7 linked regions of the Homo sapiens genome follow. The protein of the gene in region 5 purifies or fractionates together with the protein of the main gene of each other region. This does not show direct contact. Each region holds a gene or a part of one and is shown on either strand. Other genes may lie near its edges.

Region 1 (3,500 bases), on a different chromosome or scaffold from region 5:
CCTACATGTCTCATCTTGTATTGTCAAAGGGAAAAAATGAAAAAAAAAAAAAAAAACTACATGCAATTTGATATATCTAGCACTTCAACACAGATGAGGTTTGAAGTAACAAAAGATTAACAATAATGCAAAATGCTGTCATATTTTTATACATCATTTTCATATTAAATATAATTTTAAAATAAAAACAATCAAAATTACCTTCACTGCCCAAAAGTCACACGACAACAACAAGATAATTGTAACCATACAGGTAATAAAGCTGCTGCTGAGCAACTCACAGAGAAGACAGACGATGATTGCACTGACTCGAAAGAATAAGTGGAAAAACGATGCTACTGGATGTCTGAAAACCAAAACACAATGAAAGAAATGCAATTACATTTTACTACAGGTACTAGCAAATGTAGAGAAAAATGTTTTAGCCATCGTGTAACTGTGAAGAGTTTTGTCAAAATAAAAGAGGTGACTTTAGTAGGAGGAAGCAAACCTCCTAGCTCTCTTTTTCTTAAGCCCCACTATTTGACTAGGCCCTATAGTGACAGAAAATACACTATGCACAGATGACTTTAACACCTCATTGAATATAAACTTTCACAAAATAGATAATAAAGAATTTTACCTCTCTTGGAGAAATAAGGAAACCGTATCTTAGAATTTGAATCCTATTTTCAAATCACGCCAAAAGAATTCCTTAGCCCTCAGAAATCACTCAGACATTAAGACAAAGTTATCAGGTAGTTTGTTTGTTTCTTTTTTTTTTTTTTTTTTTGAGACGGAGTCTCGCTCCGTCGCCCAGGCTGGAGTTTGGTGGCGCAATCTCGGCTCACTGCAAACTTCACCTCCTGGGTTCACGCCATTGTCCTGCCTCAGCCTCCCAAGTAGCTGGGACTACAGGCGCCTGCCACCACGCCCGGCTAATTTTTTGTATTTTTAGTAGAGATGGGGTTTCACCATGTTAGCCAGGATGATCTCAATCTCCTGACCTCGTGATCCACCTGCCTCGGCCTCCCAAAGTGCTGGGATTACAGGCGTGAGCCATCGCGCCCAGCCTGTTTCTTGTTTTTTAATAGCTTTTTTGAGATATAATTCACATATCATACAATTTACTTATTTAAGGTAAACAATCTAATGGTTTTTAGTACATTCACAGATTTGTACAACCATCACTCCAATTTTACAACTTTTCATTACCCCAGACAGAATCTTTGCACCCACTGGCAGTCATTCCCCATTTACCTTCAAACCCCTCAGCTTCTAGCAACAGCTAATCTATCTTCTGTCTCTACAGATTTGCCTATTCTGGACATTTCATATAAATGAAATCATACAATATGTGGTCTTTTGTGACTGGCATGAAAGATGAAAGAAAAGTAAAAAACAGCATTTTAGCAGGGTTCAAGTAGAATTTGCTTTCGATAAGTGAATTTATTTAGAGAGAATTAAATTTAGAATAGAAATGTTATGTGATTTTGAAATGTGCACAATAAATCAAAATGTAAAGTATCTACAGAAACTATATAAAGAAATGGTACATTCTTGGAAAATAGCACAGAATTAAAAACACAGGTGTTCAAATAATTGGATTTGCTGATTTTAAAACTCAGTATTAAGTATGCCAATTATTCACAAGAAAATCTGAAATGTCATCTTTGTCTTACACTAAATGTTAAATTAGCAACATGCAGTATTCACAAGCACATTGAAACAACTCTGCCTTGACTCCCATCAGCTAGCACTGACATACATACAGAACAACACTGGACACTAACACAGCTCATGCAACTTCTCCTCCTACCTGATTTTGGCTTTTCTTGGTCTATTAGTCGTCTCCTCTTCCGCATCAAACAGTGAAACATCTTCAGTGTCATCATTACTATCCTGGTTGGAAAAATAAATGGTCAAGAAGCAAAACAAAATTCAGTGTTTACACAGCCACTGCAATGCAAAGCTGCATACTCATCAAAATAGAAGATAAAATAATGTGGTTACAGCATCAGGAATTCAAAACCTAGAAAAGGACACATGCAGATCCTCCACCCGCCTCCTCAAATCATCTGGCAAAAACCCCAGAGAATAATCGAAGTCTCAGCTCCTCCATCCCTGCCCCTAGGCTGCACCATCTGAGAAAACTCTGGGGTGCAGATGAGGCTACTACAACTTAACACCTGTCCTCCTCACCTGTTCTCTCCCAAGTCACAGAGCAAGCCGAGGCTACTGGGGATAATCTCAAGGTTTCTGGCTCCTTCACAAAATCATCTGACTGCATCCTTAGTTCCATGACCCCTTCTCACAACTCCTCCTCTTCTTATCCAAGGCTAAACCAATTATTTGTGCTCAGAATAACTTCTTTTCATGCCTCCTCGGGGATTTGTTTCATCATTTTCCCCTGTATTTACACTTTCTTCTATCTTCAAGTCTATCTATTGGATCTTTCTTTTTTGTTGTTGTTGAAATGGGGTTTTGCTCATCACCCAGGCTGGAGTACAATGGCACGATCTTGGCTCACTGCAACCTCCGCCTCCCGGGTTCAAACGATTCTCCTGCTTCAGCCTTCCAAGTTGCTGGGATTACAGGCGTGTGCCACCACACCCAGCTAATTTTCATATTTTTAGTTGAGACGGGGTTTCACCATGTTGGCCAGGCTGGTCTTGAACTCCTGACCTCAGGTGATCTGTCCGCCTCAGCCTCCCAAAGTGCTGGGATTACAGGCCTGAGCCACCACGCCTGGCCTCTATTGAATCTTTCTAATCAGCATATGCATATAAACTTCTTCAAGGCCACTTATTAGGCAAAAAAAGATTTTTTTAAGAACCCTGATCCTGAATCTCCTCTTCAATCCTCTACCTTCCCAAAGCATTGCTTCCTTTTACCTTAGGCTTTTTTTTTTTTTTTTGAGATGGAGTCTTGCTCTGTCGCTCAGGCTGGAGTGCAGTGGCGTGGCCTCAACTCACTGCAACCTCTGCCTCCTGGGTTCAAGTGATTCTCCTGCCTCACCTTCCCAAGTAGCTGGGACTACAGGCGCGTGCCACCATGCCTGGCTAATTTTTTGTATTTTTTTAGTAGAGACAGGTTTCACCGTGTTAACCAGGAGATTTCATGACCTTGTGATCCACCCGCCTCGGCCTCCCAATTGCTGGGATTACAGGCGTGAGCCACCATGCCCGGCCCCATAACCTTAGGCTTCTAAGAGTGGTTCACACCTCAATTCACTGCAATTCCCCTCAACTACAACAAACCTGATCCTGTTCCTCTCCTAGCGCCACTCACCAGCCTCCCTGCCTTTATCCCTCTCTATTCCAGCCTCTCCTTTACATTACCCAGAGCAATCCTCCCAATATGGAAATCACACCATGTCACTCTACTGCTCAAATTTTTCAATGGCATCCCTACAAGTATAGGATAAAATTTAACTCCTTCACATAAAGCATAGAAGATCACAGAATCTAATGCCCCCTACTTGCTTCTGACACTGTCTTCATTGAGCACTGTTGAGCACT
Region 2 (3,500 bases), on a different chromosome or scaffold from region 5:
CAGAGTCAGATTGAAAAGTAAGTCACAATATACAGGGTTAAATAAAACCCATCTGATGAGAATTTATGGTTTGTAGGGCATGACTCCCCAGACCCCTTAGGTGGGAATTTGGGCAAGATTAAAAAATCAGAGCTTAGTCCTCAGTGTGGTTAACCAATTTGTTTCAAGCCCCATTGCTTGGCATTTCTCAATAAAGTCTGAAATTTTTAGTTTAAGTTGCTTCCACTAGCTAAGAGATTTTGAGGCAACTTGATATTTACATTTGAGTGATAACTTAGAAAGTGTCTAAAATCCTTGGTGTTTTTTTCATAACCACTTCACACTTTGTAATTGGTAACATTTTATTTGTAAAACTTTTCCCCGCTTCCATTTTCCGTAGACTTGAATTTTCTATGCTTATCACTTTATTTCTCCTTCAGGGTAAAATATTTAAAAATACAGTTCTGTGTGCCTTAGAGCAAGAAAACTCTCAACCACAGAATTTGTCCTTGCCCAGGAAAGTTTTGCTTTCCAGTTAAAGAGAGAGTTTATTTGACCAGGATAGCTCATTTTCCAATAATGGTAGATAACTAATGGTAATAATTTCAGAAATACTTCCTTTCCATAGACAGAACTTTTACTTCCCTTTGGGAAAGCAGGGAAATAGGTCTTTGAACCAGACTGCAGTTTTGGGTAATGGAGCTATATAAGGGAAAGAGATAAGTTAAATATGGGGAATAATATTCAGTGAATGAAAATAATATTTGCAGGAACATTATTTCAAGTGAATCATTTGTTTAAAATTAAATAATCTATTATTTAAGTATATGGCAGTAATTTTTGGCATTTAAAAATTTTATTTAGTTTCACAGTATCCTCTCATTCTTCTACATGCCCGGTAATTTTATGTAGTACTGGTAAAGTACCTATTATTGCACTAAATTAGGTGGTGAGAACATCTGTGATATAAACTTTCATTCTGCCTTTATTGTGTCACTAAACATTTCCATGTTCTAATTAGATTCTTTTATTTTGAAGTTTATTTTAAAAATCTTGCAGGGTACCTTGAATTAACTGAAAATATCCTAGAATGTTGCAAAATCATGTTTGATCATTGTTCCCTCTAGCTTTCTAGTTCTTCAGGAGGCCTTAGATACCTTAAAATCTGTTAATACCATAGAATCAGTTAATACCGTATCATTTTCTAATTTGACAGAACAGGTGATGGGATGGAAGGATGTCTCATAAGTTATACTGTATGAGTTTTGGAAAAGGAGTATGGAATTGCCAATAGATGAAGACATTAAAGTATTGAAAATACTAAATATTTAGATATTTTGCAACTTGTAACATTTGACCACTTTCCTTATTAGTTGCTTATTAGTTTTGTATATCACATTGACCCAAACCTTATTAATCACAATTCATTAAGTAGGTCACCCAGTGCTTTCATTATTCTTTATTCGGTAACCATAGCTGCTGGCAACTGGTGACTTTTTTGGTGGGAGGGAGGGAGGATACAAAGAAAGACGATAACAGATTTGAAATTAAGGGAAAGAATAAAGTTATGACAGTTAAAAGCAGGTCCTATCAAAGATTTATGATGGCAAGTTAGAACATCTTTTTTTTCTTGGAAAAATAACATCAAGTTTTTATTCTTAGATACCATTTTTTAAGATGACAAGCACCCCGCTACTTTTTTTGTCACACTCTAAAATATAATGCATTAGGTCACAATTTATCTGAGTTACACTTCAGTCTCCTTGAGGAGATTTAAGAAAGGTCTTGGTATCTTCAATATTGTAGTTATAAGCCACCTTAGTTGGTAAAGTTTTGAAATACTGTTCTCAAGTTTTTGAAATATATGTGTTTGAGGGGATTACATCCCACTGTGTGTTCAGGTAAGTATTCATTGGAAACACTTTGGTAAAAATGTCACTTGAAGGCCATGTGACTTAAAGTGGAAACCAGATATTGTATTGTAACCTTTATATGTTCTCTGTCAGTTTCTGATACCATTTTATAACTCACATATTAGATATATTTTTAAAGCTATAAAACAAGTTTGTGGCATTCCTTTTGGCTGCGTGATGAGTTATTTTTTTTACTTGCCTACATTCTCCCTCATTAACTATTAAGTAAGTACCTTTTATGTATTAAGTACTGTAGCCACTAGTGACACAAAGTATGTACCTCAGAATACTCTCAGGAAGCATCCTTCCAACTGAGAAAAACAAATGAAAAATTGAAATGATTTGAGGAATGTGTTAAAATGGAACATTATTGCAGTATACTGAGCTGGGATAAATAAAGGGAGTGATTATCTTTACTTGGGGAATCACTTTTAGGTGGAAATATAGAAATTCAGTTTTTAAAAATGATTGGGGATTTACCAGGTTAATGAGGGAGGAAAGAACAATATAGGGGAGAAGCAATAATATAAAATAGCATGGTAAATTTGTGGGACTCTGGTTATTTGGTGTTCTGTATTGATTGTGTAGAGATATCAGACGAGAAGAGATTCAGGATTTAGGTAAGAATTTAAAAAAAGCTTTGGACTTGATCCTTTTGGTAGACAGCTACTGAGAAACCTTAAATTTGAAATGTCCTGATTGGATTATAATCATATCCACATTACTCTAAAGAACAGTATGCTACTAACTGGTGACTGTTGTATTAATTCAGATTATATGTAATGAAGTTTGAACTGTATTAGTAATAGGAGAGGGAAAGATCAGAAGGAAGTAACCATTTTGGAGGGCCATTGCATACGGACCTCCAAATAGTGGTGGAGAAGGAGACTGGGTTGATTTAGAGGTTTTCTGGCATAGATTACAGGGTTGATGATACAATGAATAGTTCAGGGAAAGAAGGAGTAATGGGTTTTACGTGAAGTATGAGTTCAGGATTAAATAATGATTTTGAGAAGCCTATGATAAATCTAGAAATGAGGGGTAAGGGATTGCATTTCTGTTAGGCAATACTAAGGAGTACAGGCATAAGGTCTGAATTAGAGATAGAAATGTGAGATTCATGTCTTGTAGGTTTTAGGAAAGTTGTGAGCAGAAGAATAAAAGATCTCTAACAAATTAATAAAAAGGCAAATAAATAGAAATAATGGGCAAAAAGCTTGCACAGGAACTTCACAAAAGATGATATGCAAATGACCAATAAGCATAAGAAAATGGGGTTTATCTTCGTTAGACATTATAGAAACACAAAATGAAACCACAGTAAGATACCATCCACTAGAATGCCTAAAATAGAAAAAACAAAGAAGAAGTGATACTTGTGGAGCAACTGGAGCTTTCACTGCCTGTGGGAATATACATTTGTACAGCTATTTTAAAAAACTGACAGTATATTCTAAGGTTGAGCAAATGCATACATTATAACTGGTGGTATACTGGTAAACTGTGTGTGTGTGTGTGTGTGTGTGTGTGTGTGTGTGTGTGTGTGTGTGTAAGAGAAAGAGAGTATGATTGATATGTCATGTAGTCCCACCATGGTCAATTTCAAGC
Region 3 (3,500 bases), on a different chromosome or scaffold from region 5:
TTGCCAGTCTGTGATCCTCCAACCTTGTCTTCTTACCTGAGAGCTCTCCCCCTGGCGTTTCAGGCTTGTCTTCCCCGAGCAGGAAGCAGAGGCCCCCTCTTCCCCATCGGAGGACCATGAGGCCTGGGAGCTGAGCCCTGAGCACAGGCCAGGCCAGCTCCCCAACGGCACCCACACGCACACTGACCTTCCACTCCTGGTCACCCCTCACTGCAGGCCACCCCAGCTTGCCGGGCCTCAGAGACAACAGAGACGTTTGCCCCTCAGGGTCAGTACATGTGCCCGGCCTCTGCCAAGGCCCCCGGGTCTCAGAATTCAACCAGCCTCTCCCTGTCACTGCTGTAGACAGGAGCTCTGCAAGCCCCAGTCCAGGCTCTCCCGCTAAGGGTTCTGTGGGATTGGGGAAGCCCTGGTGCATAGCTGCAGCTCCTGTGCAGCCCCAGCCCCGCTCTTCTGTCTTCTGGAGGCCCTTGTCCCTCTGGACCTCTGATCCCTCCTGCATGCGGTGCTGGGCTAGGCAGGGCCAAGCGGGACTTGTAAACAATACGTCATCTAATATCATAACCCCTGTCAGGTAGGAGTTAGCCCGTGTCTTACAGGGATGAAGCAGAGGCTCAGAGGGTTGAGTAGACCTTCCCTCGGTCATTTCCAGCAGCTTGGGTCTGGTGCACTCAGCTTCCTAAGAGGGCAGAGCTCACTGCCTATCACCCAAACCCGGCTGTCCTGCCCACCCTCCCAGCGTCCTGAGAGCAGCCACCAGGTCCCCTGGTGAGTCAGCCTAGTGAAGGTCCTGCCACCCGGGTGGGCACCCGGGCTGTTCTGCAGCTGAAGTAGAAGCGTGTTTTGACTGGATGTGATTTCCCACTTTCCAGGTGATGCCCGCCTCTGGGCCTTTATGGCTGTGGCTGCTGTGCTGAGGGGAGCTTTCCCACCCAGGCCTACCGACTCCTTGGAAGTGGGGCTGCATGCCCTGCGTGGCCTGTGCTGGGGAACTCGGCCTAGCACCTGTGCTTACCCGTTCCACTTGAACCTCAGCCTCCACTCCTTAGAACACCTCGCCTGCCTCAGTCTGCCCACCCTGTACCACACCGTGTCCAGAGCACAGAACCCTGGGGAACTTTAAAACAAAATGCCCATTCCTTCCCCCGACCTGGGCATCTGAGTGAAAGTCCTCCTGGGGGGCCCTGGAGTCTGTGGTGTAATTCATTCGTTCCCTCTGTCTGGGTGTGTCAGCCTGAGTTGGTGGCCACTGGGCTGTCTGTTTACCACCCCTGCCCCCATGTGATAGATGGGGCCACTGAGGCTCAGAAGCAGGAGGGACTGGCTGTGATGCCTTCCTCCACCTTCCTGATCTGGCCTGCTCCCAGCCACCTGTCCTTGGATCCACCTGAGCCCCAACAGCATGAACCTTAATGTCATCGACATTGACACCTGGCGGGGGTGGGTGGGAAAATTAACACTCCACGGGGTCCCTTCCTCACCCCCAGAGATACCTGTGCCCCTGAGTCAAAGCCGAACTCTGCACATCAGGGAAACGGAGGCTGAGGTCACATACAGAGCCCTGGCTCAGCCCCACCACATGGAGAGGCGGTGGGCCAGCCTCCCCTGGAGCCGGTCCCCACCCAGCCCACTCTGCAGGATGGGCATTCTCCTGGGAGAAGATGTGACTCCAGGCTTCCTGTGCCTGATGAGCTCTACCCTCCCAAGGTAGGGGGGCAGTTTGCTCCCAGTGTCCCAGTTTCGGCTGAGGCAGCAGAATGCCCTCTGGGTCACAGCCCGTCCTGGGGGAGCTGGGATGGAGAGAGTCCCAGAATTCAACCAGCCTAGCCCTATCACTGACACAGACAGGGGAGACTCAGAGTGGACCCCGACTGTCTCAAACAGGGTGAAGAATCAGGAGGGCTGGCTGCCTGATCTCACCAGTGCTGCCTCTTGCCCCGTGGTGCAAGTGAGGAGACCGAGGCAGGTGAACAACAGGCAGAGTTCCCTTACTCCACGTGTCCATTATCTTTAATGTAAAAGGGCTTTGTATTGGGATGTGCTTTGAATCTTGAAAAATGCTTTTCACACTTGGAGCAACACTTATGGCAGAGAAAGGGAGAAAAGCAGAATACAAATCCACATGTTATGAAGCGTGTGGATTATCCATGTAATTATAATAGAGAAGTGCTGCCCTGCACACCCTCGTGTGTCCTCACAGCAGTGCTGAGCAGAAGGCAGGAGGGGTGTTGTCCCATTTACAGAGGGGGACCAGGCCTCAGAGTGATAGGTGGACCTGGGGTGAGGTGGCCTTGGACTAGGCTTCTCCCTTCTGGTTCTTTCTGAAACCTTGCTTCATAGGCACCTTTCCAGCAACAACAGCCATTCAAGACCCTTGTGCCTGTTAATTTTGTTTGTTTGTTTTGAGAGGGAGTCTCGCTCTGTCACCCAGGCTGTAGTGCAGTGGCGCGATCTCGGCTCACTGCAAGCTCCGCCTCCCAGGTTCACGCCATTCTCCTGCCTCAGCCTCCCGAGTAGCTGGGACTACAGGCACCCGCCACCACACCAGCTAATTTTTCGTATTTTTAGTAGAGACGGGGTTTCACCATGTTAGGATGGTCTTGATCTCCTGACCTTGTGATCCACCTGCCTCGGCCTCCCAAAGTGCTGGGATTACAGGCATAAGCCACTGCGCCTGGTGTGCCTGTTAATTTCTTACCTTCTCTGCAGTTTTTACCCCTGTCTGAGTGTACATTTTTATGTATTTGTAGTCACCATTGTGTCATTTGTGGAGGTCATATATATTGAACCCTGGAAATGCAGTGCTGAATTAGGGTTGATCTGACTCTTGGGAGCTTGGCCCTCCCTGGGGAGGGGGTGGTGGCAGGCAGGTACAGGCTGATTGTTCATGCCTCTGGCTTCCCACCCCTGCCTCTGTATCCTGTTCACACACATCGCTGGGACAAGCCCAGACATCCCTCGGATCTTCAGGCCCCACTGCCAATGTAGGAGGTGAAAACTATCTTTCTTCCCATCTTAGGTTCATGGCTGAGGTTCCTATAACAAAAGGCAGAAGAGAGAAAAGTATAATTTAGTGTAAGTTTTACATGATACAGGAGCCTTCATAAGGAAGTGAAAATCCAAAGAAATGGGCTCAACCTGTGTATTTTCTTTCTTTTTTTTTTTTTTTTTCTGAGACGGAGTCTCAGATCTTGGCTCACTGCAACCTCTGCCTCCTGGGTTCAAGCGATTCTCCTGCCTCGGCTTCCTGAGTAGCTGGGATTATAGGCGGCCACCACCATGCCTGGCTGATTTTTATGTATTTTTAGTAGAGAGATGGGGTTTCACCATGTTGGTCAGGCTGGTCTTGAACTCCTGGCCTCAGGTGATCCATCTGCCTCAGTCTCCCAAAGTGCTGGGATTACAGGTATGTTGAGGCACCGTGCCCAGCCTCAACCTGTTTATTTTCTATGCTAGGTTTGATAAAGAAGTGGGTCATTGTGGAGGAGTCTGACTGGATA
Region 4 (3,500 bases), on a different chromosome or scaffold from region 5:
AATGCTCATTATACAACTGAAGAATTTGAGCTGATTAAACCAGATTCTGTCAAGTTACTTATCGAAAATCTAAAACTATATTCCCAGTAAGAGTACATTTCAATTCAATATATGATATCATAAAAATTGGTTATAACATCATAAATAGAACAAAATGCAAATAGCTTAGAACACCATAAAATTGGACTCTTTTAGTATACAGAAGTATTAGTATCTATCCATGAACACAGTCCTTCTCCAAACGTTCTTTTTTTTTTTTTTTTTTTTTTTTTCAACAGAATCTTGCTCTGCTGCCCAGGCCAGAGTGTAGTGTCACGATCTCGGTTCACTACAACCTCTGCCTCCTGGGTTCAAGCAATTGTCCTTCCTCAGCCTCCCAAGTAGCTAGGATTACAGGTGGGTACGCCACCATGCCCAGCTAATTTTTGTACTTTTAGTAGAGACGGGGTTTCACCATGTTGGCCAGGCTGGTCTCGAACTCCTGACCTCAAGTGATCCGCCCACCCGGGCCTCCAGAAGTGCTAGGATTACTGGCATGAGCCACTGTGCCTGGCCCCTTCTCCAAATGTTCTACTAGGCAAGCCCATAAAGTACTGCATTTGTTTTATTTTTATTAAACATATCAGAAGCAATATAATCACACAAACTTAACAGTTAAGACAACACAGATAGCCCACTATGGTGATTAACAGTCATTACTTCATAGTCACTTAAATTTTTCATATTAATGATTAATTAGATATTCCTTTTTTTTAAAAAAATATAGACACTCCCTGACTTACAATGGTTCAACTTAGGATTTTTTGACTTTATGATGGTGCAAAAGCAGTGCATATTCAATAGAAATCATATTTTAAGCACCTATAAAAACATTCTGTTTTCAACTTTCAGCACTGCAGTCAATAAATTACGTGAGATATTCAACAGTTTATTTTTATTTTAATTAATTAATTTTTTTTAAATTTTGAGACAGAGTCTTGCTCTTTTGCCCAGGCTGGAGTGCAGTGGCACAGTCTCGGCTCACTGCAACCTCTGCCTCCCGGGTTCAAGTGATTCTCCTGCCTCAGCCTCAAGTAGCTGGGATTACAGGTGCCTGCCACCATGCCTGGCTAATTTTCTGTATTTTTTTTAGTGAAGATGGCGTTTCACCACGTGACCAGGCTGGTCTCGAACTCCTGACCTTGTGATTTGCCCGCCTTGGCCTCCCAAAGTACTGGGATTACAGGCGTGAGCCACCGTGCCCGGTTTTATTATAAAGGAGGCTATGTGTTAGATCTGACTCTGCCCAACTGTAGGCCAATGTAAGTATTCTGAGCATGCTGAGGGTAGGAGAGGCTAAGCTATGATGTTTGGTAGGTTAGGTGTATTAAATGCATTTTTTTGACTTACAAAATTTCAACTTATGATGGGTTTATAAGTATGTAACCCCATTGTAGGTCAAGGAGAATCTGTGTATTTAAATTAAAGGAACAAAACACTTTTAGAGCTGGAAGAGACCTTAAGATTACTAGTTCTTTTCCTTTACATAGAGGGTAAACCAAATCTAAGGAAAAGCCACAAGGCAGAAAATTTAAATTCTGAAATTATAAAGCCTCAGACTGAGGATTTTTTTAAATCCCAGAAATAAGGGGTTGAATAAAGAAGATACAGGGAAAAAATGTTCAATACTACATAAATACTGTAACCTAACACTATTTTTCTCTATAAATGTTCTTTAAATGAATACCACTATTAGAAATATGTAAAAACTCACAGATGCAGAGTGATTCCCATGTCTCTTAGCTCCTTCACAGATAGCAGAGGAGAGATTATATCTTGGCCAAATCTGTCATAAATGAGTACCTATTAAAAAAAACCATGTGTCATCATTATCAGTGAACAACCAATAGTGAACCTATATTAAGACAATGTTGAAGTAAATTTTATTTTAATACATCATATATACTGAATTGTTATCCTTGCCTCAATTTAACATTTTCCATCATTATCAGTGAACAACCAATAGTGAACCTATATTAAGACAATGTTGAAGTAAATTTTAATACATCATATATACTGAATTGTTATCCTTGCCTCAATTTAATATTTTCCATCATTATTTACCCAAATGTCCATCCAGGCAGTAATACGTTCTTAAAGCATTACTACTCAGGCTAAAATAAATAATTATATCAATTTCTTCTTATAAAATTCTTTTTTCTAGGTTTTAAAAAAATAGAGACTATAAAATCCTTAAGCTATCATAAACTTTGAACTTAAAGCCAATTCACGTTCATACCCTTATTTTTTTTCCAGTTCACATATATCTTTTCTAAAAACAGAGATGTAAAAATTAGCCATTTTCAAAACTAATATATAACAAGTTCCAGGACCACAATAAAAAATTTAGTATTTTAAGCATCTCAGGTTAAAAAGATACTCATTAAAAAAAATTAAGTCCCTGGCTGTGGCACAGTGGCTCACGCCTGTAATCTCAGCACTTTTGGAGGCCGAGGTGGGCGGATCACTAGGTCAAGAGATAGAGACCATCCTGGCCAACATGGTGAAACCCTTTCTCTACTAAAAATACAAAAATTAGCTGGGTGTGGTGGCACGTGCCTGTAATCCCAGCTACTCTGAAGGCTGAGGAAGGAGAATCACTTGAACTTGGGAGGCGGAGGCTGCAGTGAGCTGAGATTGCGCCACTACATTCCAGCCTGGCGACAAAGCGAGATTCCATCTCAAAAAAAAAAAAAAAAAAATTAAGTCCCTAAAGAGTATTTGATAGACTTAGTCTATCAAATACACTTCCTCACATTCTCAAAGTATTAAAACAGACAGCTTTGAGGTGTGGTAAGAACTCCAAATGGGCTTTTTAACTCAAAATTAGTTTCACGGTTAAGACAAATAAAAGAGATCCTCAACTGGTAAGCATTTTTCACAACTACCTCAATAATTATTTATGGAGTAAGAAATTGTTAATGAGAGAATGAAACATGTTGTTATGAAAACACATTTTCTTAAATGCCAGGATTTCCTTTAAAGAGGCTAAAAATCTTTCTGCTCTAGTTATAAAAGGTTCACGTTGCATCTTTCAAAAATCTTCCCTCTTTTAATCTCAATACATGTGTATTATTAATTTTAATGATATAAAAAGTGATGGGTAGGAAAAGTATCTGACAAAAATTTGTACCCAAGAAATTCTCAAACTATTTCAACCAAAAGCTCAATATTGGTCTTAGAAACAAGCAAGTATAGTTTATGCAAGAGGCAATAGGAAGATGCCCACAAAGGAACAAGAAGGAGAAAATTAGGGAATACTCTGGAGCTTAAACTATGAAATCAATACAGACAACTTTAACTACTTTTAGAGTTAACCCAAAGGACTTATAAAGACTCAAGAGAGTTTTCAAAACACCCTAAATTCTAAACATGTTGATTTGTTCTTAATTTTTAGCAAGAGAGAAATATAAAGAGACTGTTAACCAGTAAGTTTAAACCCAATCAACTGTATTATAACA
Region 5 (3,380 bases):
CTGTAGGTAAAATATGCCTCAGTTTAAAACATTCTTAGTAAAATATGGGCTTTGGAACTGAATGACTTCTAAAAATGCTTTGAGTCTAAAATCCTGGATTTCTCTGCTTCCAACATGGGGTAACCCAGAGCTATTGCTAACCGATGCAGAAGGTGCATTTGCGCCTGTCACAGTGCGGGCTCTGCGCCAGGCCTGCCATCTCCCCTCAAATGGCAGCAGTGCCCCGACACTGGTTCACAAGACATCGCCCGCCTCCAGCGTAAGCAGGACAGCAGTAACCTACAACCGGTTTTCAGTTATCTGGGTCTTAATTGCGCTGCCACAGATCGGCTAAGATGCCTGGAACTTCTCTAGTAGGTGTCACTATTGTCAGTAGGAGCTGGTGGGAGGCAGTTAACTAATTTAATGAACAAAAATCACAAAGAAAAAAATTATGAGATGGAGGTGGAGGAGAGACAGCACCAGGAGCCGGCAACTCCCTGCATCTCAAACACACACGGTTCTGCCAGATAATCTTTATTTTACACATTTGCAACACGGCAAGAGAATTCACCCCGTACATCACCATGATCGGATCCCCCACCCATTATACGTTGTATGTTTACATAAATACTCTTCAATGATCATTAGTGTTTTAAAAAAAATACTGAAAACTCCTTCTGCATCCCAATCTCTAACCAGGAAAGCAAATGCTATTTACAGACCTGCAAGCCCTCCCTCAAACGAAACTATTTCTGGATTAAATATGTCTGACTTCTTTTGAGGTCACACGACTAGGCAAATGCAATTTACGATCTGCAAAAGCTGTTTGAAGAGTCAAAGCCCCCATGTGAACACGATTTCTGGACCCTGTAACAGTATCTTACGTGCTCCAAAGGCTGACCTTCTGGAGGCTCACCGCCTCATCTGGCTGCTTCCTCCAAAATCCAAAACCTTGCCTCAAAATAAGCTGTCCTGTGGGTGAGTTGGCTGTTCTGTTTCATTCTGACCATTCTGACTCTGCCCAGAACGCCGTCCCACCTGCAGACACCCTGCTGCCAGAACTCCAACAGGTCCCCGAGGTAGCGAGGCCAAGCCATGCCCATTCACTCCTGCACCATCTCAGTGTGCTCCCTCACACAGGGCCTGAGATGTGTGGGGCCCATGGCCTGGCAGTGAACCATCTAAAAGCATTATCTATTTTTCAAGCATAAACCACGCAGAGAGGCTCAGATGCATCGCTGGGCTACAGAAGTGGCCTCTGGGGAATCTGGAGTATGTTCAGCCTGCCGACCGATAACTACGTTCCAGGTGGTGACAAGTATTAGCGTCAACTCAGGTAGATGCCTTTTAAAAACGCCCTGCCAGAAACACCCTAGGGAAAACTGGAGTGAAGAGCGGGTCTTTCAGAACATTTGGTACTTTCTGGATGAATATCTTTTTGATATACCAAGAGGCATCAAGTCAAAGTCTCACTTCTATAGCGAGGAAGCCATTAACTTGCTGAATCCTAAAGGGAAGAATCAAGCCGCAGGCCACAGGCATCCTGGACTTAGCTTACGTGAGTCTTACAAGGCCAGGGGCGGGTCAGAGAAAAGCAGCGGGGTGAAGTGTGGAGTGTGGAAGCAGGGGTGCAGCAGTGTGCTAGATCTGTTTCCTTTGAAGTACAGCAGCTTGGCAGCATGAAGCATGAGTTGTTCCACTGTTCTACTGGGTGTATGGAGCTGGGCCAACAACCTCAGCAGACTATCTAATGTTCTAAGAGCCTTCCTCAAAGAAAATGTTTCAGGACGGGGGAGAAGGCCAGAATGCATCTGCAATTCCAACAGGCATCGCTATGCTCTTCCTTGGTCTGTAAGGACTGGATGCCTGGAGTAGACTGTTTTAAGTACCAAAACAAGACACCCATTTTAGTGTGGAGGAAGACCAGCCTATATGGCCCAGAGCAATAATATTTGGCATGAGTATGCCACTCTTGAGAAAATTCTCCTTAGCTTAGAAAATGCATCTTTCACACAGCTGCTGGGAGAAAACGCTGCAATGCACCAAAGCCTTTAGCCGGTGTACCCAGAATGAGCCTATGTGGGATCAATAGGCACGGGGAGAAAGATGGCAGAGAAGGGAAGAGGAGGGAGGAGGAGGGAAGGAGGAGGAGAAAGAGGTGGAGGAGGGAGGAGGAGCGGAAGGGGAAGGGGGAGGGGTAAGGGCGAGGGCAGAGGAGGAGGGGGAGGGGATGGGGAAGGGGGAAGGGCGAGGGCAGAGGAGGAGAGAAGAGGGAGGGAGGCTGTGGAATGAGACAGCAGAGATGGCGATGAGGTCATCACGCAGGAGGAAATCTCACCCACACGAGGTGGACTTACAGGGCTGTGTGCTGCCTGGGCAGGCTGGACATGTCCAGGGCGGGGAAACCCTGGATATTTCACTCTGAAGTGGTTTCTTGAAAGAAAACTCAACTGACTCAGGCCATGAGCATCTTTTACACTGAAGCAAGCATCTCCTCACAAGTGCCTCCTACAAGTCACTAGAGTCATATTCAACATTACAAAATGCAGTGCTACTTAAATTTTAAAGCACTGAGGGACCAAGAAATGGGCTGATCAAGTCCTTGGCCACTCACTGTTAAGAGCCAGGATTTACAGATCAATGACTGTTCCTATTGTCCAAGAAATAATTTTCTAGCAAAGCATACACACTTTATTAAATTTCACAGCCAGCAGCGCTTTCAGTCCACAACAGATTTCTCAGAGGAAACATGGATATTTTGCGTAGGCAGAAACAGTGAGGAGTACAAAGCAAAGCTATAAATACCACCAATGGTTCTGCTATGTGCATCCGATATTTTTTGCCCGATCTGAAATACTGCAAGGGCTTAACCATTCAAACACCGCATGACAACGAACCCAGTGGACTGTGAAACTCAGGCTGCAGGAGGGTGGCTTGTCAGCTGGTGAAGCCACTTGGCTTTGGACTCCATCGGTCATCTTTACGCAAGAGCAGAGATGAACGGTGGGTCACGGCTATGACGTGAAGGAGAAAGAGAAGACACACTCACAGAACAGGATGGAGAGCTTCAATAATTTTTTAAAAGCTTGGAACCACCACCTGCTTTCCCAATCTTGGGCTGGGGTTTTGACTTTTCTTGATCATCAATCTGACTTGAAGCCTTTTACCAGTTACAATACAGACATGGCCAGATGACCTGCTTGTTAGGAAGGCTGTGGCCATCTTTGTTTCTGAAACAGTCTTATCTCATCTGTCCACTGCTGCTCTGGAAGGGTCAGGACCAGCACTGCAGACACTCGGCCATGCTGTGAGTGAGCCCAGACATACGCGTGGAATCTGAACACCCAACGCTGGCGTTCCCGTGCCAGTCTGAGGGCTGCGGCTCCAGCGCTTGTCCA
Region 6 (3,500 bases), on a different chromosome or scaffold from region 5:
ACTTGAACTCTCACTTCTCATTCACAAACGGGTCTCCCACCATCAGATGTGGATGCCCAGAGGCCAGGCGGTGACAAATAGAAACCGTCCTCTTGTTCCCTGGTACCCTCTCGGGGTCAGCCCTGCACCTACCAGCTCACCTCCCCTCTCCTGCCTCCTCCCATTAACTCAGTAACGCATGATACGTCCCTAGACCCACATGGCCTCACAGGGTCTGCTGTCACCCGCTCCTGGGTGAGGAGATGGTGCAGAGGTTGACGGCCTGTCAGAGGGCAGAGCCCGGAGTCCCGACCGCGATGCGGTGGTGCAGCACCAGCCAGTCCTGGCCTGTGTGAGGGTGGGGAAGGCCGGGCTCCCTTCTGTTTCTTTCACTGCAGCTCCCGCTTCAAAGCCTCCCAGGATGACGGGGAGACTGGGGCCACACGGGGGCCTGGGCCTCACCCCGGGAAGGGGTACCTGGGTGTCTGTGTATTGTTGCTTTTTAAATGGCACGCGTTTTTACACAATCTTCAGGATTGTTATAATAATAAAATAGAACATTTATAACAATATAATTGTTACTGTCATAGAAATTATATGAATGTGGGCTGCCTCAAAATAACTGTCATATTTTCAGACTATGGTTGACCTCGCGTAAGGAAAACCGCGGATAATGCGGTTGGGGGTGGCTCTTGCATGTGGGGCGGAAAGCCAGCCAATTCTTTCCTAATGCTTTAATTTTCCAGGAAAGTAAGAAACAAGGTGTCAAAGTGCTATTCCGGGACACGGAGCTCCCTGACACACCCGGCTGCTCTACATGCCTGGGATCCCACCCCGATGCTGGCGTGCCCCGCACAACCTCCCAGCAGCCCGTCCCCCCTCCGCTTCCTCACCTCTGGAGTGGGGACCAACCAAAGTCCCCTCTCCGGGGCTTCTCTGGAAAGGAAACGTGCAGGCACACAGCAGGCAGATAGAAGGACCCATCTGCGATGACTTGGCTAACCGAGGTTTTCGTAATTTAGTTAATGCTTAGCCTCCCACAAGAATTACTTAATCAGAAGAATCTGTAATTTCGCAGCTTCTGATGTAAACTTACAAGTATCTTCCAAAAGAACTGTGCCACTAACGTGGCCCCAGGAATCCTCACGTGCTCACCAAGACTGAGTCTCGTCATTCAATTCTGCTTCTCTGCCTCAGCAGGTATGAAGTCACACCCTGTCATTTAACTGGAAGTGCCCTCATTACTAGGACTAGGCATTTCCCTTTTCCTTCTGCTGCCATTTCTTACAGGAGTTCTCTGCAGTGACGGGACCGCAACCCTTGCTGTTACTCTCGCCGCAGATGCTCTCATTGTGCTGCTTCTTTTGCTTTAGTTTCCTAAGTCTTCACTGCCAGACAATTAAAATTTAAGTCTCGGCAAATCTTAGTTATTTTTCTGTCCTGGTTTCTTCTACTTATTTCGAGCCTTGCTTGAAATGATTTGCTATACTTTCTAGGTGGTTTTCCAGTCGCCAATGAAAGGCTCAGGAGGTGGCTGAATTCCCCCACACGGCTCTGTCCCTTCAGGATGAGGAGAGAGAAAAGGGAGGATGGGGAGGAGAAAGGAGCTTTGCTAAGGGCAAAGCTGGCCCACAGAGGCTGCGCCTGCCTTGCCTGGCTGACCCCGTCCTTCTTGCTGCCCTGGGGATCATCAGCAGCAGGATAGGGGTCTGGGGGAATGACATGGCTTAGATGTTTGTCCACTGCAAATCTCATATTGAACTTGGACCTTCAGGCTGGGCACAGTGGCTCACGCCTGTAATCCCAGCACTTTGGGAGGCCGAGGTGGGTGGATCACTTGAGGTCAGGAGTTCAAGGCCAGCCCAGCCAACATGGTGACACCCCATCTCCACTAAAAACACAAAAATTAGCCAGGCATGGTAGCGGGCGCCTGTAATCCCAGCTACTCAGGGGGCTGAGACAGGAGAATCTCTTGATTGCAGTAAGCCAAGATCGTGCCACTGCACTCCAGCATGGGTGACAGAGTGAAACTCCGTTTCAGAAAAAAAAAAAAGACACTGAACCTCCAGTGTTGGAAGTGAGCCTTGTGGGAGACGTCTGGGTCATGGGGGCAGATTCCTCACGAATGGCTTGGTGCCATCTTCGCAGTAATGAGCGCATTCTCGCTGTGGCTGTTCACAAGAGAGCTGATGTTTAAAAGTGCCGGACACCCTCCTCATCCCTCTCTTTCTCCTGCTCTCGCCACGTGAAGTGCTGGCTCCTGCTTTGCCCTCGCCATGACCGCCAGTTTCCTGAGGCCTCTCCAGGAGCAGATGCCGACACCATGCCTCCTGTGCAGCCCGCAGAGCTGAGAGCCAAGATGAACCTCTTTCCTTACATGTGACCCGGCCTCAGGTGTTTCTTTATAGCAACACACGAATGGCCTGACACAGGCAGACACTGAGTGATGGGCGGGGGGCACACAGCCCAGGCATGGACGAGGCGTCCAGAACAAGCCACTAGCAAGCTTGACCCCCACATAGCATCTTTACTATATAATGATCACTGAAACACAAGTTTTCAATCATGAACAGTTACAGTGGTTCAGCACTAATAAATGAAACCTGTTAGGCTAGCCCCCAAATAAATTCACTTCTCAACATTGATTCTAGTATCCAGTAAAACACTGGTTTTAGTGTATTTTCCCAATTCTTCAGATCTCAAATACTATCCCATTCTTAATATGAAAAATGGTCTCAATTTAGAAAAAGAAGAGCTTGGCAGGTGACCAATCGGCCGTAGAAAGTCTGGCCTGTGGCCACGGGCCTACGCTCTCACCTGGTGAGCCAGTGGCCGAGGTCAGGCCGGTGAGCCCACTGCACACCTGTCTGGTTTAGGGAGCGCAGCAGCCGGCAGCAGGCCAGTATTAGCCACGGACTGGCCAGCACCATCCACTTCTCGCGGCCTCTGAGCACTTCGGAGGTAGAGGGGCTTCCGTGGCCTTTGTCTCGCTCCAGGACATCACAGCCAGGCCCGTCCTGCCACGCTGCTGTGGCCCCGTCATGCCCTTGTTCCACACAGAGGCCACACGGAGGCTCACCGTCATCTCCCAGAAAGTAGTTTCTGTAGGTTTCTTGGCTCAGAGCTAGACACAGGGTGTTCACAAGGAAGTACCAGGTCTGGTGCTCCTCCTCCACGAAGCTGCTGGCGCCCAGGCTCAAGACGTGGCCCGCCGTCCCCAACAGAATAAGAAGGTCTAGCTCTGACCACCTTGAGCTGGGATGCATGGGGTTCTGTGAAAAGGAAAGTGCACTTTGTAAGAGACGGTCTGATAACGACACACATCTTGCTGCATGTCAAGTCCTTGCTCACAGCAGAGAATGCCCTGGACACACACCATTGTTCCTCACACCCAGCACCTGGGCCCCTACTCTGGAACAGCCCCCTTCTGCTCCAACGGCAGGAACCTTCCTCTTGGGACGCAGCCTGCAGGAGTGGAGACGCCCTCAGCCCAGGCAGGGGAGCCGGACACTGCACGGCCA
Region 7 (3,415 bases), on a different chromosome or scaffold from region 5:
CACGGCTCACTGCACAGGGATTTCTCTCTCCTGCAAACCCCCCGAGTGGGGCCCAGAAAGCAGGGTACCTGGCAGCCCCCGCCAGTGTGTGTGGGTGAAATGATCGGACCGCTGCCTCCCCACCCCACTGCAGGAGCTGAGGAGTGTGAGCGTGCCGTCATCGACTTTGTGGCTTTCCAGGACATCTCCATCAAGAGGCTGCAGCGGCTGCTGCAGGCCCTCGAGGCCCCGGAGGGCTGGGGTCCGACACCAAGGGCGGGCCGCGCGGCCTTGCAGCTGAAGCTGCGTCGGCGGCTCACGGAGCTCCTGGGGGCGCAGGACGGGGCGCTGCTGGTGCGGCTGCTGCAGGCGCTGCGCGTGGCCAGGATGCCCGGGCTGGAGCGGAGCGTCCGTGAGCGCTTCCTCCCTGTGCACTGATCCTGGCCCCCTCTTATTTATTCTACATCCTTGGCACCCCACTTGCACTGAAAGAGGCTTTTTTTTAAATAGAAGAAATGAGGTTTCTTAAAGCTTATTTTTATAAAGCTTTTTCATAAAACTGGTTGTAGTTGCACAGCTACTGGGAGGGCAGCCGGGGACACCTGAGCCGCCCGCTGTGCCCAGATCCCTCAGGCTGCCTGCCATCAGAACTGCTGCCCGGGGCTTCCCCTACCTCAGACAGACCCTCCCTGGGAGGATCAGTGGGGAGTGCCACCTCTGCCCCCAGTGGCTGTGGCACGTGGCAGGGGCCCCTGAAGCTCAGCGAGGGTCAGGGCCTGGGAGGGTATCATTGCTGGAAGAACAGGATGGGGCTCAGGCCAGCCCTAGTCGCCGGGGCCCACACTAACCCCCCACTTATGAATTCCTCCCACTCCCAACTCACAGGGGATTTCCCGAGAGGGGACCTGCCAAAGACCTCCTCCAGGCCTCCCATGCTTTCCGGGAAGTGAAGCTTCTCCCTCTCTGGGGCAGGCTCTGAAGCCTCCCGATGCACCCAGAGCAACCGGGGGGCTGCACCAGCCACTCGCCTCCCCAGCACGGCCAGGTTCCCGGGGCTGGAGGTCCCCCCCAGGTCCTGGGAACCAACCTGCAGAACACACACAGGGTCCCCTGGAGAGGACGCGGGGACTTCCAGGGCCCGACTCCTGTGAGTCACAGCCCCGCAGCTGCTGCGCCACCCCCACCCTGACTCATGCCCCTTCCCAGCAGCTCCTCCCAGGACCCCATGTCCTTCCCACATCCGCAGGAAGGGAGTGCCTGGACTCTCCAGGCCCACCTGGGGAGCCCCTCACCTGCCCACCAGCCCCTGAGCAGCCCAGTAACACCATCACCGTGTCCAACAGCCAGGAGCCTCCACCCTCCAGGAGGGAAGGGATGGACAGAGCCACACTCGCCGTCTTTATTTTGCACTCACCCTGGGTGACACTGGGCAGGCCGCTCCTGCCCACAGCCAGACTGAGGAAGAACACAGCACTCGGCAGGCCCAGTGGGGTCCGTGCAGGGAGGACCCCAGGACCAGCCTTACTCCCGAGCAGGGGACACAGGGCCCCACAGAGAACCCCTCCGGGAGGTTCTCTCCTGGCTGGGGGAGGGCTCTGGACCCCCACAAACACTCCCCAACTTGCGGGGCTGGGGCATAAAAACAGCCACTCCCAGCAGGCCCCCTCAGCTTTTTGCATCAGTCAGCTCCCTCCCGGGGGATTAGGGTGAGGTGAAGCCAGGCCCAGGCGTGGGGTATAGGTCTTCCCCCGCAGGCCTCAGCCCTGTCCCGAGGCTGCATCACAATCCAGGGCCCCCGCTGGCCTTTGGGAACATGGCCTGGGTCTTCCTCAAGGCAAGATCAGCCCCAGACCACTTCCGGGGTCACGGGGTCACGGGGTCACAGGGCAGAAGCCAGATGGCAGCCATGGCTGACGGGCCTCCTCCTCGATGGGGCGGAGACAGCCACGGGGTCTCCCGAGGGTCCCACAGGGCTGTCCTCATGCAGCCCAAGCCAGCCTGAGCACTGGAGCCCCAATTCCCAACCAGGTCTCCCTCAGACCCCCCAGAAAGGGCCTCGAAAGGCCGCCGCTGCGCCCTGTGGAAAGGCTGCCGCTGCAGGGCCTGGGCCAGCCGGGCTGCCAGACTCCCCTCCAAAGCCTCCGGATGCCTACGCTTTTCCAGACATAGAGGAAAGTTTGTCTTCGAGAAAACAAAGTAAATAGAAGAACCCCAAAGCAAAGCAAACCCACCCCCCAGATCAGCAGCATGGGAGCCAACAGGAGGCCACTCCTCCAGCACCAGGGGACCAGCCGTCCCGACGGCAGCGCGGCTGCGCCTACGTGATGTCCCTCTGCCGCGGCGGCCGGTGCACATTCCGCACGACACACTTCACCATCCACTCGATGCCCTCGCGCACCCCTTTGCTGTGAAGACAGCGGGTGTGAGGCGGGGGGTCTCGGTCCCCAAAGCCCCCGCAGGTGCAGCCCCCACTCACCCTGTGAGGGCCGAGCAGGCCTGGGTCAGGCAATCTCGCCTGCCGATCTTGCTGGTGCAGTCGCTGAAGGCCGTCTTGATGTCAGGGATTGAGAGGCACGTCTGGGGGAGGTAAGGCCGTGAGGAGCAGCCCCCACGTCTGGCCCTGTCCTGCCTGTGGGCCCGGGACTCTCAGAAGGGCGTATGCCCTTCACCCCAGGGAAACAGCCAGAGCTCCACCAGGGTCCCAGTGTCTCCCACAGAGACCACAGCAGTGAGGACCCTGTGCTCAGCCCGAGGCTGAACATGGCTGGTAGTGCCTGAGACAAACTAGACGTCCACACGGCTCCAAGGAGTCCACCCCCCATCCCCTCCCTGGGGGACACCCTGAGCCCCGAGGTGGGGCGCTGAGGACTGAGGCCTCCTGGGCAGTGGCGGAGGCAGGTCCCAGGGGCCCACACAGCCGGGGATGATGGAGAGGTGGGAGCCCTGCATCAGTGATGGAGGCAGTCTGCAGTCATGGTGGCTTCTGCTCACAACCACCTGCCCAGTCTTCAAAAAGCAGCCCTCCCCTCCCCTTTTCCTCCGAGGGGAGACCCCTGCCCCGTACCAGATGTCCCTCTTGTCGGCTGAGATTGTAGGGGAGGCCAGCCTTACAGGCTGGGGGCAACAGAGCCACCCCAGAGAAGGCAGGAAGTGAAGATTCACCTGGCCCTCTGGACGCCGGGCTGCTTCTGTGCAAAGCCACTCCAAGAGAACAGCTAGAACTCAGCGTGGCCAGTGCTCCCGGGGGCAGTGGCACCTCAGAGGGGTCTTGAGGGGCTGCCCTGGGGGTGGGGCTGGCACAGATGCCACCTCCAAGGGTAGCAGGAACAGGTAAGGGTCAGAGCTGACTCCCACCAGGGCCCCAGCATCACTTCTTTGAGCTCTGAGTTTCACCTGGGTGTCCCCACAGCTTGGCCACACACTCCTGAGACACGGC

What was found.
Region 1: the proteins of GPR107 (region 5) and TVP23C purify together in Homo sapiens (affinity purification with mass spectrometry, with the first as the bait; one large-scale study listed by BioGRID). This does not show direct contact.
Region 2: the proteins of GPR107 (region 5) and ECHDC1 purify together in Homo sapiens (co-immunoprecipitation; one large-scale study listed by IntAct). This does not show direct contact.
Region 3: the proteins of GPR107 (region 5) and KIAA0930 purify together in Homo sapiens (co-immunoprecipitation; one large-scale study listed by IntAct). This does not show direct contact.
Region 4: the proteins of GPR107 (region 5) and SCFD1 purify together in Homo sapiens (affinity purification with mass spectrometry; one large-scale study listed by BioGRID and IntAct). This does not show direct contact.
Region 6: the proteins of GPR107 (region 5) and PIGG purify together in Homo sapiens (co-immunoprecipitation; one large-scale study listed by IntAct). This does not show direct contact.
Region 7: the proteins of GPR107 (region 5) and ARFRP1 purify together in Homo sapiens (affinity purification with mass spectrometry; one large-scale study listed by BioGRID and IntAct). This does not show direct contact.

Annotation. Positions count from the first base shown.
Region 1 is NC_000017.11:15,553,484-15,556,983, forward strand, and holds part of TVP23C (Golgi apparatus membrane protein TVP23 homolog C), read right to left. Parts: intron 1,882-3,500; coding exon 1,799-1,881; intron 347-1,798; coding exon 202-346; intron 1-201. Other genes in the region: TVP23C-CDRT4 (uncharacterized protein LOC100533496), read right to left, coding at 202-346, 1,799-1,881.
Region 2 is NC_000006.12:127,333,610-127,337,109, reverse strand, and holds part of ECHDC1 (ethylmalonyl-CoA decarboxylase), read left to right. Parts: intron 1-3,500. UniProt on the Homo sapiens protein: Decarboxylates ethylmalonyl-CoA, a potentially toxic metabolite, to form butyryl-CoA, suggesting it might be involved in metabolite proofreading. Acts preferentially on (S)-ethylmalonyl-CoA but also has some activity on the (R)-isomer.
Region 3 is NC_000022.11:45,230,895-45,234,394, reverse strand, and holds part of KIAA0930 (uncharacterized protein KIAA0930), read left to right. Parts: intron 1-3,500.
Region 4 is NC_000014.9:30,628,819-30,632,318, reverse strand, and holds part of SCFD1 (sec1 family domain-containing protein 1), read right to left. Parts: intron 1,843-3,500; coding exon 1,754-1,842; intron 1-1,753. UniProt on the Homo sapiens protein: Plays a role in SNARE-pin assembly and Golgi-to-ER retrograde transport via its interaction with COG4. Involved in vesicular transport between the endoplasmic reticulum and the Golgi.
Region 5 is NC_000009.12:130,137,285-130,140,664, reverse strand, and holds the end of GPR107 (protein GPR107 isoform 3 precursor), read right to left. Parts: 3' UTR 501-3,380; downstream 1-500. UniProt on the Homo sapiens protein: Has been proposed to act as a receptor for neuronostatin, a peptide derived from the somatostatin/SST precursor.
Region 6 is NC_000004.12:523,210-526,709, reverse strand, and holds part of PIGG (GPI ethanolamine phosphate transferase 2, catalytic subunit), read right to left. Parts: intron 3,252-3,500; coding exon 2,797-3,251; intron 1,540-2,796; coding exon of another isoform or gene 1,472-1,539; exon of another isoform or gene 906-1,471; intron 1-905.
Region 7 is NC_000020.11:63,698,147-63,701,561, forward strand, and holds the end of ARFRP1 (ADP-ribosylation factor-related protein 1), read right to left. Parts: intron 2,557-3,415; coding exon 2,456-2,556; coding exon of another isoform or gene 2,452-2,455; exon of another isoform or gene 2,385-2,451; coding exon 2,297-2,384; 3' UTR 501-2,296; downstream 1-500. Other genes in the region: TNFRSF6B (tumor necrosis factor receptor superfamily member 6B precursor), read left to right, coding at 134-417. UniProt on the Homo sapiens protein: Trans-Golgi-associated GTPase that regulates protein sorting. Controls the targeting of ARL1 and its effector to the trans-Golgi. Required for the lipidation of chylomicrons in the intestine and required for VLDL lipidation in the liver.